Linked DNA regions of Homo sapiens. The protein of the gene in region 2 purifies or fractionates together with the protein of the main gene of each other region. This does not show direct contact. Each region holds a gene or a part of one and is shown on either strand. Other genes may lie near its edges.

Region 1 (4,206 bases), on a different chromosome or scaffold from region 2:
AGCTATGGATCAAGGGAAATCTTCCCGGGTCCCTAGTTGGTATCTGTTTTCATAGCATCTTTGGGGAGGTTTTGTAAACAAAGCATTGGTAGAAGGGCCCTTGGCTGATGGGGCCATAAAGTGCCCTTTCTTTGGTTTTGTGCTCTCCCTCTCTTGTGGGGCCAGTCATTTGAATCCAGAAGATATCCCAGGATGGAGCTGCCCTGAGTATTTCTGTGGCTGGTTGGAAGGCTGGCACACAACAAAGTGGGCATGCAGCAGGCTGCCTCCCTGGCTTAGGCCAAAAAAATAAAGCAACTCAGAGATGGAGAAGAGGCAGGAAATCTATGTTGTAAAAAGTCTTTGTTTAAAGGAATTCCGTTCAGGTGCTGAGAACGGGGTGTTCAGCAGAAGAGGATAATATGAGTAAACATTGGCAGTAAGAACAAACACAGCAGTATCACTGTCTGCGTCTGGCCTCCTCCTGTGCTCAGTCACAGGTCTCTCCCACCGCCCTCTATGATAGCAATCATAAACAACATGTAGAAGGGCTTTACAGTTCACAGACCTCAGTTCCCCTCAGCGGCACTTCCTTGCAGGGTTTCTTTATGCACTGGATGACCCTGGTTCCACATAAATGAAAACTGGGCTTAAAGGACACATCCATGTCCTGGGAGCTGTACAGACTTAAAGAAAAACCTAGATAGGGGCAAAAATTGGGGCAGGCGGTGGGGGTGGGGGGTGGGGGGTGGGGGGGGGGAAGAAGTGGTCGAGAGAGTCATCTAATAGGTCACCAATGTTGCTTCTGGGAGGTTGCCGGAGGGTTGGCTCCTTTCAGCCAGGTTTAGGGCCAGGTCTGGACACACTCAGGAGGCCGGTGGCTGAAGGGCAGAGGGCAGGGTGGAGGCCCAAGTGAGGCCAAGGAAGGAGTGGATGCCGCTGGGGCTGGCACTTCCTTGGCTTCTCAGCGTCCTGGCAACCAAGAAAAGATTCCAGGAGTCGACTGGTGGCACCAATGCGAGAAGCCCCGGGCGGATGAAAGAAGCTGACCCGTGCGAACCCCCCACCCCCTCCACAAAACCAGGAGATTCCTGCCCAAGAGCAAGAGATGGAATTCCCCTAACGGAGGAAGCTGCCGACCTAAGGGCTGGGACTGGCAGCGCGCCCTCTCCGGGAGCTTCAGGTCTGGGGCAGCCTGTGCAGGCGCGGGTGGAGGCCCGGGCGCGTCCCTGGGGGCGGGAGCCAGGGGCGGCCAGCAGGTGGGGCCTGGGAGCTGGACTCCGCCCCCCGCTCCCTCCCCGTTGGTCCGCTGCCGCTCAGCACCGGCCCCTCTCCCGAGCCGGAGCGCGATTGGTGGCAGCGCTTGTCGCTCGGAGGGGGCCGGGCCGCTCTGCTTCGCGGCTCTCCCCGCCGCCGCTGCCGCTGCCGCTGTTCTCCTAGCAGCGCGGGCCGGTCGGACCGCCAAGGCAGCCGGCGCTGGCGATGGGAAGCGGCGTGGCCGCCGACACAGGCAGTGGCAAAGTTTCCCAGACGTACACATCTGGACGCGCGGCTGCCGGCTACCCGTGACCCCTCTAGGAAGGGTTCAGGGATTTTTAATTTGGAAAAAAATCCACCTGGTTTCCTTTGTCAAGGTCTCTCCGGGTGGCCAGCGGCAGGAGCTGCAAACTTGGGCACGGCGGCTACACCGGCAGCGGACCGGGCTTTGGAGAACCTCGGGACTCAGGTGCTGAGGTGCCCAGCGGCTCCGGACGTGCTACGGGGTGCGAGCGCGGGGGAGTTCGGGGCGCACGACAAGGAAGGGCCCCCGGGAGCTCTATATGGAGGAAGGAGCCCAGAATGGTGTGCACCAGGAAGACCAAAACTTTGGTGTCCACTTGCGTGATCCTGAGCGGCATGACTAACATCATCTGCCTGCTCTACGTGGGCTGGGTCACCAACTACATCGCCAGCGTGTATGTGCGGGGGCAGGAGCCGGCGCCCGACAAGAAGCTGGAGGAAGACAAAGGGGACACTCTGAAGATTATTGAGCGGCTGGACCACCTGGAGAATGTCATCAAGCAGCACATTCAAGGTACGGGCGCCCCGGAAACTTGGGTCGCCCATGAGGCCCGGGAGTGCCCCGCGCGGCGCGGGGTGCGCTGGGGCTGGTGCGCATCAACTCAGCCACGGCGGGGCTCTGGGGCCGCAGATGCGTGGTAGTCGTGGGGCCTGCGTGTGAGCTCCTGCCTGCGTTCGGGACCTTCTGTCTGCGGCCGTGCGCTCTTCCCCGGGGCACACGTGTGTGCGCAGGGCTGCACGAGCGGATGTGTGCAGCTAGCTGGCGGTATGGGGGCGCGCTGCGCACGTGTCCAAATGTGCGTGTGACTCTGGGCTGGTTGCTCGCGGGCTCTCGGGATCGCACACAAGTCCGGCTCAGAGTGTGTGTGCATGTGAATGTCTGTGTGTGTACAAGAGGGAACGCGCGGGCAAACGAGCTTTTTTGGCCACTGTAGGCGTCAGGCGAGATGCCCGCGCGGCGGCCCTGACTATTGGCAGTTAAGACCCGCAGGCTGCCGGACAAGCGAGGCTAGGAAAATTGCGTTGTATCAGCCCCAGCCCCAGTCTTGCTGTGATCCCGTTGGTAGGCGATAGGGAATGCAAGGAGCCCTCTGTGGTTGAAAAGCCGCTTGAACCTATAGCAGTCCCTACCCCCACCACAGCCCGCGGGTCCAGGACCCTCTCCAGGAGCAGGTGTCAACGCCGGGAAGTAGCGCTGGAGTCTCTGTCCACTGTGGTGATGACTCCGCCCAAGACTGGAAGAACACGCCCTGGGCTGCGCCTTCCCCGCGGAGCCGCCCGGGACCGGGTGAAGGCCGATCCCTACTGTAGCTCCACTCTCAGGCCCTGGGAGCAGCCGGGGCTGAGCAGACCTGGGTTGGGTCTGAAGTGTAAGGTTACGCTGGTTGGGTGCGCTCCAGACCAGCGCGGGGGTCCAAAGGGAGGGTGGGGGTTGCAGGGCGCTCTCCCGAGGCGACCTGGTCAATGAGCTGTCATGGGAGGGAATGGAGTTCCGGGCGCCAGGAGCACTGGTGCCGGGTGTGCACACACACACACACACGCGCGCGCGCGCGCGCTCACGTCCACACTTCCTCCCCTCCCCGCGCCCCCTGCTTTCTTCCAGGTGTGTGAGCTTCTTAAGGGCAGGGCCGAGCTTGGTTCCCCTGTAAACCTAGCAGGCCCACCAGGCTCAGGGGCCAGTGCATGGCAGACCTTGGCAAAATCGAATTGAACTGAAGGCTTACCCCCCACCCCCCCGCCAGGAGCACTCCCTTTTGTTTACACGTGGATGTCTGAATTCCAATCCTTGCACCTGCTGCTCTTGCCAGAGTAGAGATGGCTCCTCCGTCTGAATTTGGTGTTTCCCCAGGTGTCCAGAATAGTTCCTTTCCAGGAGGGGAAGGTTCAGGGAGGTTCAGGTGAGTGCAGGAGAGGCATCCACATCCATAGTGCTTCCTGACTAATGACTTCAAAACAAGCCCATGGCTTCGGCACCTTCCCAGAAAAGAGGGACATTGACAGCTTCTTCTTCAGACCTGCCTCTGCCTCTCAACCTGGCACTGGGCTTGAAAACCAATTTACCTATCTGTGGGTGCCAGTTGCTGTTATTTCTTACGTGTCCTTTTCCATCCCATAGGTCTTGATTGACTATTAATCAGCAATAGAAGTACAGTGTTTCCCCCAGGGTGATTCAGAATGTTCCCCAGGAGACACAAAGCCATGCCTTACTTTGACATTTCTAGTTTGCCGACAGATTTTGAGATTTTCATTCACAGATTCTGTGTGTGTGTGTGTTCCTGGAAAATGATTCTCTTGTGCTTTTCTTTCTGGTCAGGCAGGAGGTGAGCAAGGTACTGCTTTGGGGATGCTTTCAGGGGATGCCATTAACCCCTGAGCCTGTAACGGAGTGGGTGCCAGTCATGTGGAATGTGGACCATGTCACATGATTTCTAAGGTTCCACATGGAAAAGCATGATGTTGAAGTTGAAAGGAAGCATTGTGATTTTTCTCCCCGGAAACTTTATAACTATGTGTTGTTCAGCACTTTCAAATCTATACCTGAAAAATTGGAGAAGATAGGTTAAAAAAATAGGAGACAGGGTCCCTAAAACACGTGTTGTTCCACTTGTACACGTGCAATGACCCCTGTGGGTATTCAGAAATAACCACAATCTCGACAGAGGGCCA
Region 2 (3,500 bases):
CTGGCCACACTCCCTGCTGTGTCTTCCCAACTACCCCTGCTCTGCCCTCACCGCACTCAGGGGTGGCTGCTAGCCTAACTGTGGCTCTCTGGGTCTCCTCTCCTTCCTCCCCTGCCCCTCATTTCCTTATTCCTGGAGTCCTGTCCTTATGACACTAGCCAGGGAAGGGGAAAATAATGCCACCTCTGCTGGCATTGTGGGGAGTGGGGGGACCTGACTGTTGGTCTAGATTAGGCTCAGCCCCTGACTGGGTGTACAGCTTCAGGTGTGCCATCCCAGCCCCCGATGTGCCCCTCGTGTGCCCCCTGGGCGCATGCCCGCCCTGCCCTGCCCAAGGTGTATTGGGAGGAAGCAGTCAGGTAACAAGGATAAGGAAACTCGCCCTCAGACCAAGCTTAGAGCAAAAGATGCACTTCCTTTGCTGGCGTTTCTGGCTTTCCCCCCTCCAGGGATCTGCATGGCATATTATGAGAGCGGCTACAACACCACAGCCCAGACGGTCCTGGATGACGGCAGCATCGACTATGGCATCTTCCAGATCAACAGCTTCGCGTGGTGCAGACGCGGAAAGCTGAAGGAGAACAACCACTGCCATGTCGCCTGCTCAGGTGAGGCTCTGACTTTCCAGTGATGCCATCCTCAGGACTAGGCGAGAAAGCCGACAATGGGATCACCAACCATGTCTTGCTTTAACTAAAATTTGGAGTTCAGGCTTGCAAATAGGTCTGTTCCAGATTGGTAAATTATGCAACAGTTTCCAAGGTGACACTCAGGATCCTGTGGCTGACTTCTCCAAAGATGACTTATTCCTTGTAGACAGTTTTATGAAGCCCCCACTAAAGCAGGTGGATGGACAAACAACCCTACTGCCCTTTCATGTTAGAGATATTTGATGTCTTCAGTAAGAAAAAGGAAGCTGCCTGCCAGCTGCTTTCCATAAGCAATTCGCTCAGAGGATGCAGTTTGTACTTCTTAGTGCAGAATGAGATGAATACACTTTAGGTTTCTTTCTTTTCTTTTCCCTTTTTCTTTTCTTTCTTTTTTTTTCTTTTCTTTTCTTTTTTCTTTTTTTTTTTTTTTTGAGACAGGGTCTCACTCTGTTGCCTAGGCTGGAATGCAGTGATGTGATCATAGCTCATTGCAGTCTTGACCTCCAGGCCCCAAGTGATCCTCCCTCCTCTGGGTAGCTAGAACTATAGGCACACGCCCGGCTATTTTGTAATTTTTTTGTAGAGACAGAGTCTGGCTATGGAGTCCCGTTATGGGGTCCCACCTGGGCTGGTCTTGAACTCCTGGCCTAAGGAGATTCTCCTGCCTCGGCCTCTCAGAGTGCTATAGTTATTGGTGTGGGCCAGTATATTTAGCTAGCCACATGTCTTAAACATTAGAAATTAAGCTAGAATTTACTTTCATGTCTTCTACTTTAGTCATTCCAGAAATACATATGAGCACAGCATTGAGGATAACAAAATACATCAGGCATGAATTCTGCTTTACCGAACTTTCATGTGACATGACAAGAAAAGAGAATATGTGCTTACATGAAGTTAAATCATGTAAGGAGGAGTGCGCTGAGTGCCATGGGCTTCAGAGGAAAGTGACAGTATTAAGAAAACCATGGAGCCAGGCACAGTGGCTCATGCCTGTAATCCCAGCACTTTGGGAGGCCGAGGCAGGTAGATAACCTGAGGTCAGGAGTTCAAGACCAGCCTGACCAACACGGTGAAACCCCATCTCTACTAAATAATACAAAAATTAGCTGGGCACGGTGGTAGGTGCCTGTAATCCCAGCTACTCGGGAGGCTGAAGCGGGAGAATTGCTTGAACCCGGGAGGTGGAGGTTGCAGTGAGCCGAGATTGCACCATTCTACTCCAGCCTGGGTGACAGAGAAAGACTCTGTCTCAAAAAAAAAAAGAAAGAAAAAAAGAAAATCATGGAAAATTCTGTAAACACAGTGATATTTGACCCGAGACTTAGAAGATAGGGAAGATTTGGGTAGAGATAGAGAAAAGTTATCCCAGGCCAGGGGAAGAGCAAAAGCAAAGAGGTGCCTGTGGGAAGGTGTGAAGCATGAACAGAGAGTAGGGAGAGGCTTGTTTTTTCTGTAACAAAGTGACATGAAGAGAATCCCAGGGAAGGCAGGTGGAGAGGCTAACGACCATCTGAGTGTGAAAAACCCAGGCTAAGAGGCTTTCACTGATTTCTGCCTGCAAGAGGAAACCAAGAGAGGTCAGTTAATTAAGCATTGCTTCAGCAAGATCAATCTGCAAGCAGGGTGTGGGATAGATTAAAGCAGAGACCATTTAAGTGTCACCACAGTTATTGAGCTAAGTGCCATAAAAAGACTGAATGATGGTCATGGTTGGTGACATGGAGAAGACTGATGCAAGAGATGCTGAACAGGCAGAGGGCAGAGCTCAGTCAAAGGCATTTTCTCTGTGCTGCCTCTAGAGTGTAAGTCCCTTGAGGGCAGAGAGTTCTGTTTCATTCACTGATGTATCCTCAATGTCTAGAATGGTGCCTGGCCATTGCAGGAGCTCAATAAATGTTTATTGAATAAATGGAGAGAATGAGGAACAAGAGTGAAGTCAGAGAGTCATAAAATATTCTATTGCAAATTCTTTCAGAGCAGAAAATAAACCGTTTTAACTTCTCTTTGCCACATCCAGGAGTCCTCTCCTTATTGAAGGGAGATACATCCCAAGACCCCCAGCTGATGCCTGAAACTGCAGATAATACCTAACCCTGTATATACTATGATTTTTCCTGTACATAGATACCAATGACAAAGTGTAAGTTATAAATTAGGTACAGTAAGATGTTAACAATCAATAATAATGGGATAATTATAACAATATACTGTAATAAAAATATGTAAGCACCTTCTCTCTGACTCTCAAAATATGTTACATTGATAAAACTAACCAACCACTGCTGAGTGTAAATGAAAACTTGGAAAATGAAACTGCAGATAAGGGGGAACTATTGTACAAGATAATCAGTATATGGGTTTGAATGTTTGAATGACTGAATAATATGTTAAGTTACCTAGTATATTGTCCCTACCCTAACATTGATAAAGAATGATCACTACCTCCTGAGATAGATCTCCCGATTGTTGGTCAGCCCTTAATTTAGAACATTCCTTTGTTAGGCCAAAATCTGTCTTCTTCTAACCTTCTATATCAATCCTAGTTTTTCCTTCTGGGTTTATTCAAAACAAGTTTGCTTTATGTTACACATAAAAACTTATTAACTGTATGCAAATGATTTATAAGTACCTCTCATCTCTGGTTTCTTATCTTCTGAGCTAAAACATTCAGTATATTCACTTTCCATAGGCATGACTTTTGAACCCTTCTCTGTCCCAGTCAATCTTATTAGCATTCCCTAAGAGCTCACCAATGGAGTCTTTCAGTTAAATATGAGGATTAAATGTGTGCATTTACCTCCCATGGTGGGCTGAGTCCCCAGCTTCCAAATGTCCACTCTCTAATCT
Region 3 (3,500 bases), on a different chromosome or scaffold from region 2:
ATGTAGGCTAAATTCCTAAAAGTATAATAACTAGGGCAATTAATGTCATTTTAAAATCTTGATAAATAGGCTGGGTGAGGTGGCTCACGCCTGTTATCCCAGCACTTTGGATGGCTGAGACAGGCAGATCATCTGAGGTCAGGAGTTCAAGACCAGCCTGGCCAACATGGTGAGAACCTATCTCTACTAAAAATAAAAAAATTAGCTGGGCATGGTGGCCTGTGCCTGTAATCCTAGCTACTCGGGAGGCTGAGGCAGGAGAATCACTTGAAACCCGAGGTGGAGGTTGCAGTCAGCTGAGATTGCGCCATTGCACTCCAGCCTGGGCCACAGAGCAAGGCTCCATCTCAAAAAAAAAAAAAAATCTTGATAAACAGGCTGGGCACAGTGGCTCTCACCTGTAATCCCAGCACTTTGGGAGGCTGAGGTGGGAGGATCACTTGAGCCCAAGAGTTCAAGATCAGTCTGGACAACATACCAAGACTGTCTCTCCACACACACACACACACACACACACACACACACACACACAAACACATACAGAGTTGCCAGGTGTGTTGGCACACACCTGTAGTCCCAGCTACTCAGGAGGCTGAGGTGAGAAGATTGCTTGAGCCTAGGATTTTTGAGGCCACAGTGAGCCATGATCATGCCACTGCACTCTTCAGCCTGAGTGGCAGAGCGAGAGACCCTGCCTCAAATAAAAAAAACCTTAAAAAAAGAGAAATCTTGGTAAATAGAATCTAATTGTCCTACAAAGAGGCTAAACACTTCCACAACCGATATATCATATGCTGTGAATAGATCTCACACCCTTACCAACACTGCACTATTGGACTTTTTGATCTTTGCCAATCTGATTGGTAAAATTGGTATCTAGTTTCATTGACATTTCTTTATTATTAATACAGTTGAGCATCTTTTCCTATGTTTGTGAACTGTTGATATTTTTTGCAGTTATCTCCCTATATAAAAAACACTTTTTTTTTTTTTGGCTAGAGGAGCTCACTACATTGCCTACTGTGTCACTATGTTGCTGGTCTAGAACTCTTGGGCTCAAATAACCCTTCTGCCTAAGTCTCCCAAGTAGTAAAACAATATTTTAAATCAGTTATTTCCATGCTGCCAGAAAATTTTGATCAAGCCTTTGAATATTGCCCCTAGCATAGTGCTGGTCAGGACCTCAGAGGATGAGGCAGAAACAAGCTAAACTGTCAGTGTATCTTCTTTTTCTTTCAAGAAATCCCTGATTTCCCAGGGAATCTAGTCAGAAAGCTGTGTTACACTATTTATGATTATGTATATAACACTTTTTCTGGCTTGCAGAACTGATTTTGATAATGTTCTTTATTCAGGTTGAAGGTAATGAAAGGTTTTCTATCTGTTCTCATAAACTAGGAGACTTAATTATAATGGAAATAAAAATGGTGTCTTTGTGAGGAGCAAAGCCAAAGGAACACAGGTGGAAAATTAGCTATTTCAGCTATTACGAGAGTTTGTATCTTGTCTACTAATTAAACTATTCCATATAAGGGAAATAAAGAAAAGAACTGGAATGAATAAAGTGGTAGAAGTAGCAATAATACTCCCTTCAAAGCTATGACGATTTATTTGGAAAATTTTATTAAGTATTGTAAGCTGGAGCAGCTTAGCTATGAGTGAACTTGCACAATACAAAAAAGCAGAATAGCCCCTTTAGAAGCATTGTTTTCAGGAGACTTTGCAGTAGACTGATGATATGGAACACTGGAACACTGGCTTGTCTTACTTTAAAATGTGAATGGGACCTCGCCTTGTCCTAGAGCCTGCAGGCACTACTCTGCTGAATTTATGGTATGTCTGGTTGACAGGTGTAGTGGTGTTGAGCACTTTATTTTGGAAGTGATCGGGCGTCTCCCTGACATGGAGATGGTGATCAATGTACGAGATTATCCTCAGGTTCCTAAATGGATGGAGCCTGCCATCCCAGTCTTCTCCTTCAGTAAGGTAAGTACAGGGAGAGCCACATGGGTGGATGGAGAGTGGTCCTCTAGGATATGAGCATGAGATCTTTGTCCGGTGACATAGTCTGATGGATAATGGTAAGGATGAGGACTGAGGTCCAGAAATGGGTCTGTGTCTCTATTAGCATCACAGTGATTGAGCAAAAAGACAGAGGAGATGAAGTTGAGAGCTGGTAAGTAGTGTAAGATTGCTTGAGTGTCTATAGGGCTAGAGATGGAGGCTAGGGCGTGAGAGGCCTGAGAAACCTACAGGAATTAGAGGTGGGTCTTGAAGATCTTACAGAGCATGGGAGGAAGGGGTCCAAGAAAGCTTGGAGTTAGGGAACACCTTCATTCCAAAAGTTTGTTGAGCTCCTACTATGTATATATTCAGCCATAGTGCTGGGTATCAGCTGTCCCATCTGTCACCATATTCCGGGGGCCCAGGGTGGCTAAAAGTGAACCTGAAGGTGCCAGATAACTCCACACGGTGTGTGTACAAGCCGTGCATTGAAGGGATAGGCTGGAGATAGCCTAGAGGGCTATGCAAGGGGGTGATCTTTTAGACTCATCATGGAAGATTGGAGTAGCTAGGATACACCTGTGGGCTTGGGGAATTGGGGGCAAGGAATGTCTTGTCAGTGCTCAGGTTCATGTAAATGTTGTATCGGCAGGGATGGGCCTTGGTTCCCTAGAGACAAGGAAAGCATTTGGGGGTGAAGGCAGGAAGGCTAGAAGAGAGTGGATGGAAGATTCTATGGGGTAAGAGTGAATTGAGGAAAACCCCATGAAATTTGGGAAAAGGAACACTATTTCTGATTTGGTTTGTCTAAAGCAGAGGGACCTTTTATCCCCACTTTTTCTTTATCATAGTTTACTTTCTCCCTAGACTTGTTTTATTTCCTGTGTTGCAAGTGGGCAGAGGCCACATTTGTGTTGCATTTCCCATGGTCTAGCCTCATTTCTCGAAAGTGTTTGGTTCCATTGTTTGTCATGAAACTCACTCAGAAGAACAGATAGAGGCTCCCATGTAAGTCAGTAGGGACTTCGTGTTTGTTATCTATCTGTTGTTTCTATGGATAATAAAGTATGACCGTCGGTATACTAACTTTCCGTTCATCTTTACTTCCCTTCTGTTTTTTAAATCAGTGACTTCTAGTTTCCAAGGGAGAGTTTTACTCTGTCAACTTTATAGTTAATTGTGCAGCTTCTATTGAATAGCTGTTATGTTTAAGGTGCTTGATGAATCACATTTTTTACATATTTGAGAGACAGCAAACAGCATATTGCACATGTATTTCCAGTGGAAGAAATAGTAGAGTTAGAGGTTTATCAGTGGCCAGATTTTTAACAGAAGTAACCATAAAAAGGGAACAAATGGAGGCCAGGTGTAGTGGCTCACACCTGTAATCCCAGCACTTTGGGAGGCCGAGGCAGGTGGATCAAAAAAAAAAAAAAAAGGGGGGAACATATGGCTTTAAACTTTTTTCTTTTTTTTGAGGCAGAGTCTCACTCTGT
Region 4 (3,500 bases), on a different chromosome or scaffold from region 2:
CCCCCGCCTCCCAGGTTCAAGTGATTCTCCTGTCTCAGCCTCCCGAGTAGCTGGGATTATAAGCACATGCCACCATGCCTGGCTAATTTTTGTATTTTTAGTAGAGATGGGGTTTCATCATATTGGTCAGGCTGGTCTCAAACTCCTGACCTCAGGTGATCTGCCCGCCTCGGCCTCCCAAAGTGCTGGGATTACAGCTGTGAGCCACCGCACCCAGCCAGTGTTAAAACTTTGAACCCATTTTCTTGCTCTGAAATTTTTTTCCAAAGATTTTTCATTCACCCTGATGGTTTTTGCACACTGAGCATAAGAGTGTGTGTAAACGGTGGCATAGTGTGTGTTGTGTGTATCTATAATTTGGATAAGATGTTCACAGGAAAAAGCCCTGAACTACAAAGATGTGAGAATAAAAGAAGTTAAGGTAGAAAAATGAAACACTATTAATGGCTAAGAGTATAATTGTGATAATTATTTCTGATGATATTTCATCAAATTAGGCATTTGCTCTGGCCCAAGATGAAGATCCATTTTGCTTGTATGGATTTTATGAACTTGCGTAGGATTGTTAGTTTTTAACACAGGCAAATTCAGGTATTTTGTTGCATCTTTGAAAAGTCATGTTATATCCTTTTATTGCCCTAAAACCTTGTTTTGTTTCTACTTTCAGAGTTCTTACGGATATGGTGACCTATTCTCCGACACATGGAATGCATTTACTGATTATGACGTTATACATTTGAAAACTTATGATTCCAAAAGGGTACTGGAAATTTTCCTGAAATGTCTGTGAATATTTCTTGAGTGCAGATGACTCACTCATAAAATAAACATTTATTATGAGTTCCTATTAGCCATTACCACTGATTTCTGAATTTCTGAATTTCTTTTATAATTAGAATCCTCAGTGTTGTTAATCATGCAGCCTTTGAAAAGTTTTTTCTATAATCTTTCCAAAAATATGAATTCTGTTCTCTTTGAATGAAATAGTGTGCTATTCAAGCAATGCAAAATGGAGATTAATTAAAATCTATTTCTCAAAATTATACGTGCTATTTTTGGTGTGAAGGGTGCAAATTACATCTTCTTTTAATGTATCTTTGTTCTTAGGTATGTTTTAAAGAAGCTGTTTTTTCATTACTCCCCCGCATGAGGTATGGGCTGTTCTATAATACTCCTCTGGTAAGCACATTGTCTACCATTAGCATTCATATTTACAGACATAACATTTATACATAAGTTGACAGTATCTTAAATTATAATACAGAAGTATTCATTGTAATATGAACCAGTGTTTTTATTTTAGATATCTGGCTGTCAAAATACTGGACTATTCAGGGCATTTGCCCAGCATGTACTACACAGACTAAACATCACACAAGAAGGACCTAAGGTAATGGATACACTGCGGATTCTGAGGTGGGCTTGAGTTTTCTTCCCTAATAAAAATCGATACCACCTTTTCAGAAACAGAAATAATCAGGAGACCATGTTTTTGTGTTAACATTTTCTGGGGAGGCCAAGGCAGGTGGATCACTTGAGTCCAGGATTTCAAGACCAGCCTGGCCAACATGGCAAAACCCCATCTCTGCAAAAAATACAAAAATTAGCTGGACGAGGTGGCATGTGCCTGTAGTCCCAGCTACTCAGGAGGCTGGGGCATGAGAATCGCTTGAACCCAGGAGGCAGAGGCTGCAGTGAGCCAAGATCATGTCACTGCACTCCCGCCTGGGCGACAGAGCAAGACTGCCCCAAAACAAAACCCAAAAACATTTTCTGACCTGGAGTCATCTGAAACCAGGTGTCAAAAACCTATAAAAGAGAAGCTAAGGGATATTACAAGAATGTGCTTCCTCCTGTCCTCCTTTCCCCCTTCATTGGTTATATCTCCCTCACCTCCCCAAATGTTCATGTAACATACACAACCCCTGCCAAAAAATTCACCCACCCAACCAAACAGACAATGTAATGAGCTGGTTTTTGCCTTCGGTGGTTGAAGTGGATACATTTTTATTCCCTGAGAGTGGTGAAGGAATCAAGCTAAAAAAGAAGAGTTCTATTAATGTATCCTGGTTGAGTTTCATCTCTTTGTGAAAATCACATTTTGGGTTCAGATGTTCATTCATCTACCCAGGCATATGCAGTGTTATTTTACCGTTTCATTTTGATTACAGGATGGAAAAATTCGAGTCACCATTCTTGCACGGAGCACAGAATACCGGAAAATCCTTAACCAAAATGAGGTTAGTTTTTGGTATGCATTTTTAATGCCTTCATATTCAATTCATAGAGCAAATTGTGTTTTTTTTTTTTTCACATTACGTTAAAAGCTTTGGTTTAAAACTTAGTTTTGAGAAAAGTTTGATGGCCTATGCCCGGTTTATTTATTAGATTTGAATTTCTAGTGAGATTCACCAAACCACCCATAGACAAACTAGCTTTGCCTTATAGTAAATTTCATCTGCATCAACTCAGCATGGAAAAAGCTGTCAGAATCTTGCCTTGACTGCAGTAGAGGGCATCCGGACAGACAAGTAGCAAAAATGTAAGACTTTCTTTTGCATAGTTGATGCAACAGATGGTTGAGGCCATTAATCCTGTGGTATCAGCAGCAGATTTAGTTGGAAGAATCTCTGTCCTCTTACATGACCATGTCTTAGAAACTGCATTTTCAGCATCCTTACTCATTTCAGTAGCACCAACTCATAAATTACATTTAACCTCAATGAGATCACCATGCAAGGCCACTACCTACAACATCATGGCCTGAAGATAGCCTCTCAGTAGTAAGAATTTATTCTACAATAGTTAATTGAGCACCTGCTATGTGTCAGGCCATGTTCTAGGCCCTGGAGATAGAGTAGAGCAAAGACGGGGAAGGTGCCTGACCTCATGGAGCTTACACCGTAGAGGTGAGAGACAGATAAGAAGTAAGTGAAAACGTCAATAAGTACGGTGATGTCAGGCAGTGATAAGTGCTTTGAAGGATGAACCAGGGTGATGTCATAGAGACTGGGGATGTGGATGGATGGGGGTTTGTACTCACATGAGGGCATTCAAAGACCTAATCAGAGAAGAATCTAGCAAGGGAGAGAGCCTCTCGGGCAGAGTCAAATGTATTCTAGTGGACTGAGCTTTCAGTATTCTAGAAACAGAATACCAATATGACTGTAGCATCTTGAGAGAGGTGGGGCGATATCCAAGAGGTCAGGCATGGTGCAGGGGGCCACAGATCGTATCAGCCTCCTAGACCTTGGTGGGAGAGGGATTTTATTCCAGTGTAGGGGAAAGCCATTGTGAAGTTTTAAAGCAGGGCGTTGTTGGTAGAATAATGTCTCTTCCTGCTCCTCCCAAAGGATGTCCACATCCAAATCCCTGGAATCTGTGAACAGGTTAGGTTACATGGCATAGGGAAAGTAAGGTTGCAGATGGAATTAAGGTCCCCAACCAACTGGCCTTAAAGTAAGAAGATTATCTTGGATCATCCACGTGAGCCCAGTATA

The links. Proteins that work in one complex are often made in the same cells at the same time.
Region 1: the proteins of LYZL1 (region 2) and GALNT18 purify together in Homo sapiens (affinity purification with mass spectrometry; 2 studies listed by BioGRID and IntAct, with this or other methods). This does not show direct contact.
Region 3: the proteins of LYZL1 (region 2) and POGLUT1 purify together in Homo sapiens (affinity purification with mass spectrometry; 2 studies listed by BioGRID and IntAct, with this or other methods). This does not show direct contact.
Region 4: the proteins of LYZL1 (region 2) and EOGT purify together in Homo sapiens (affinity purification with mass spectrometry; 2 studies listed by BioGRID and IntAct, with this or other methods). This does not show direct contact.

Annotation. Positions count from the first base shown.
Region 1 is NC_000011.10:11,619,206-11,623,411, reverse strand, and holds the start of GALNT18 (polypeptide N-acetylgalactosaminyltransferase 18), read left to right. Parts: upstream 1-1,406; 5' UTR 1,407-1,818; coding exon 1,819-2,053; intron 2,054-4,206. UniProt on the Homo sapiens protein: Catalyzes the initial reaction in O-linked oligosaccharide biosynthesis, the transfer of an N-acetyl-D-galactosamine (GalNAc) residue from UDP-GalNAc to a serine or threonine residue on the protein receptor.
Region 2 is NC_000010.11:29,292,070-29,295,569, forward strand, and holds part of LYZL1 (lysozyme-like protein 1 precursor), read left to right. Parts: intron 1-449; coding exon 450-608; intron 609-3,500.
Region 3 is NC_000003.12:119,475,463-119,478,962, forward strand, and holds part of POGLUT1 (protein O-glucosyltransferase 1 precursor), read left to right. Parts: intron 1-1,850; coding exon 1,851-1,986; intron 1,987-2,871; exon of another isoform or gene 2,872-3,012; intron 3,013-3,500. UniProt on the Homo sapiens protein: Dual specificity glycosyltransferase that catalyzes the transfer of glucose and xylose from UDP-glucose and UDP-xylose, respectively, to a serine residue found in the consensus sequence of C-X-S-X-P-C.
Region 4 is NC_000003.12:68,986,185-68,989,684, reverse strand, and holds part of EOGT (EGF domain-specific O-linked N-acetylglucosamine transferase isoform a precursor), read left to right. Parts: intron 1-667; coding exon 668-760; intron 761-1,107; coding exon 1,108-1,179; intron 1,180-1,303; coding exon 1,304-1,390; intron 1,391-2,171; coding exon 2,172-2,240; intron 2,241-3,500.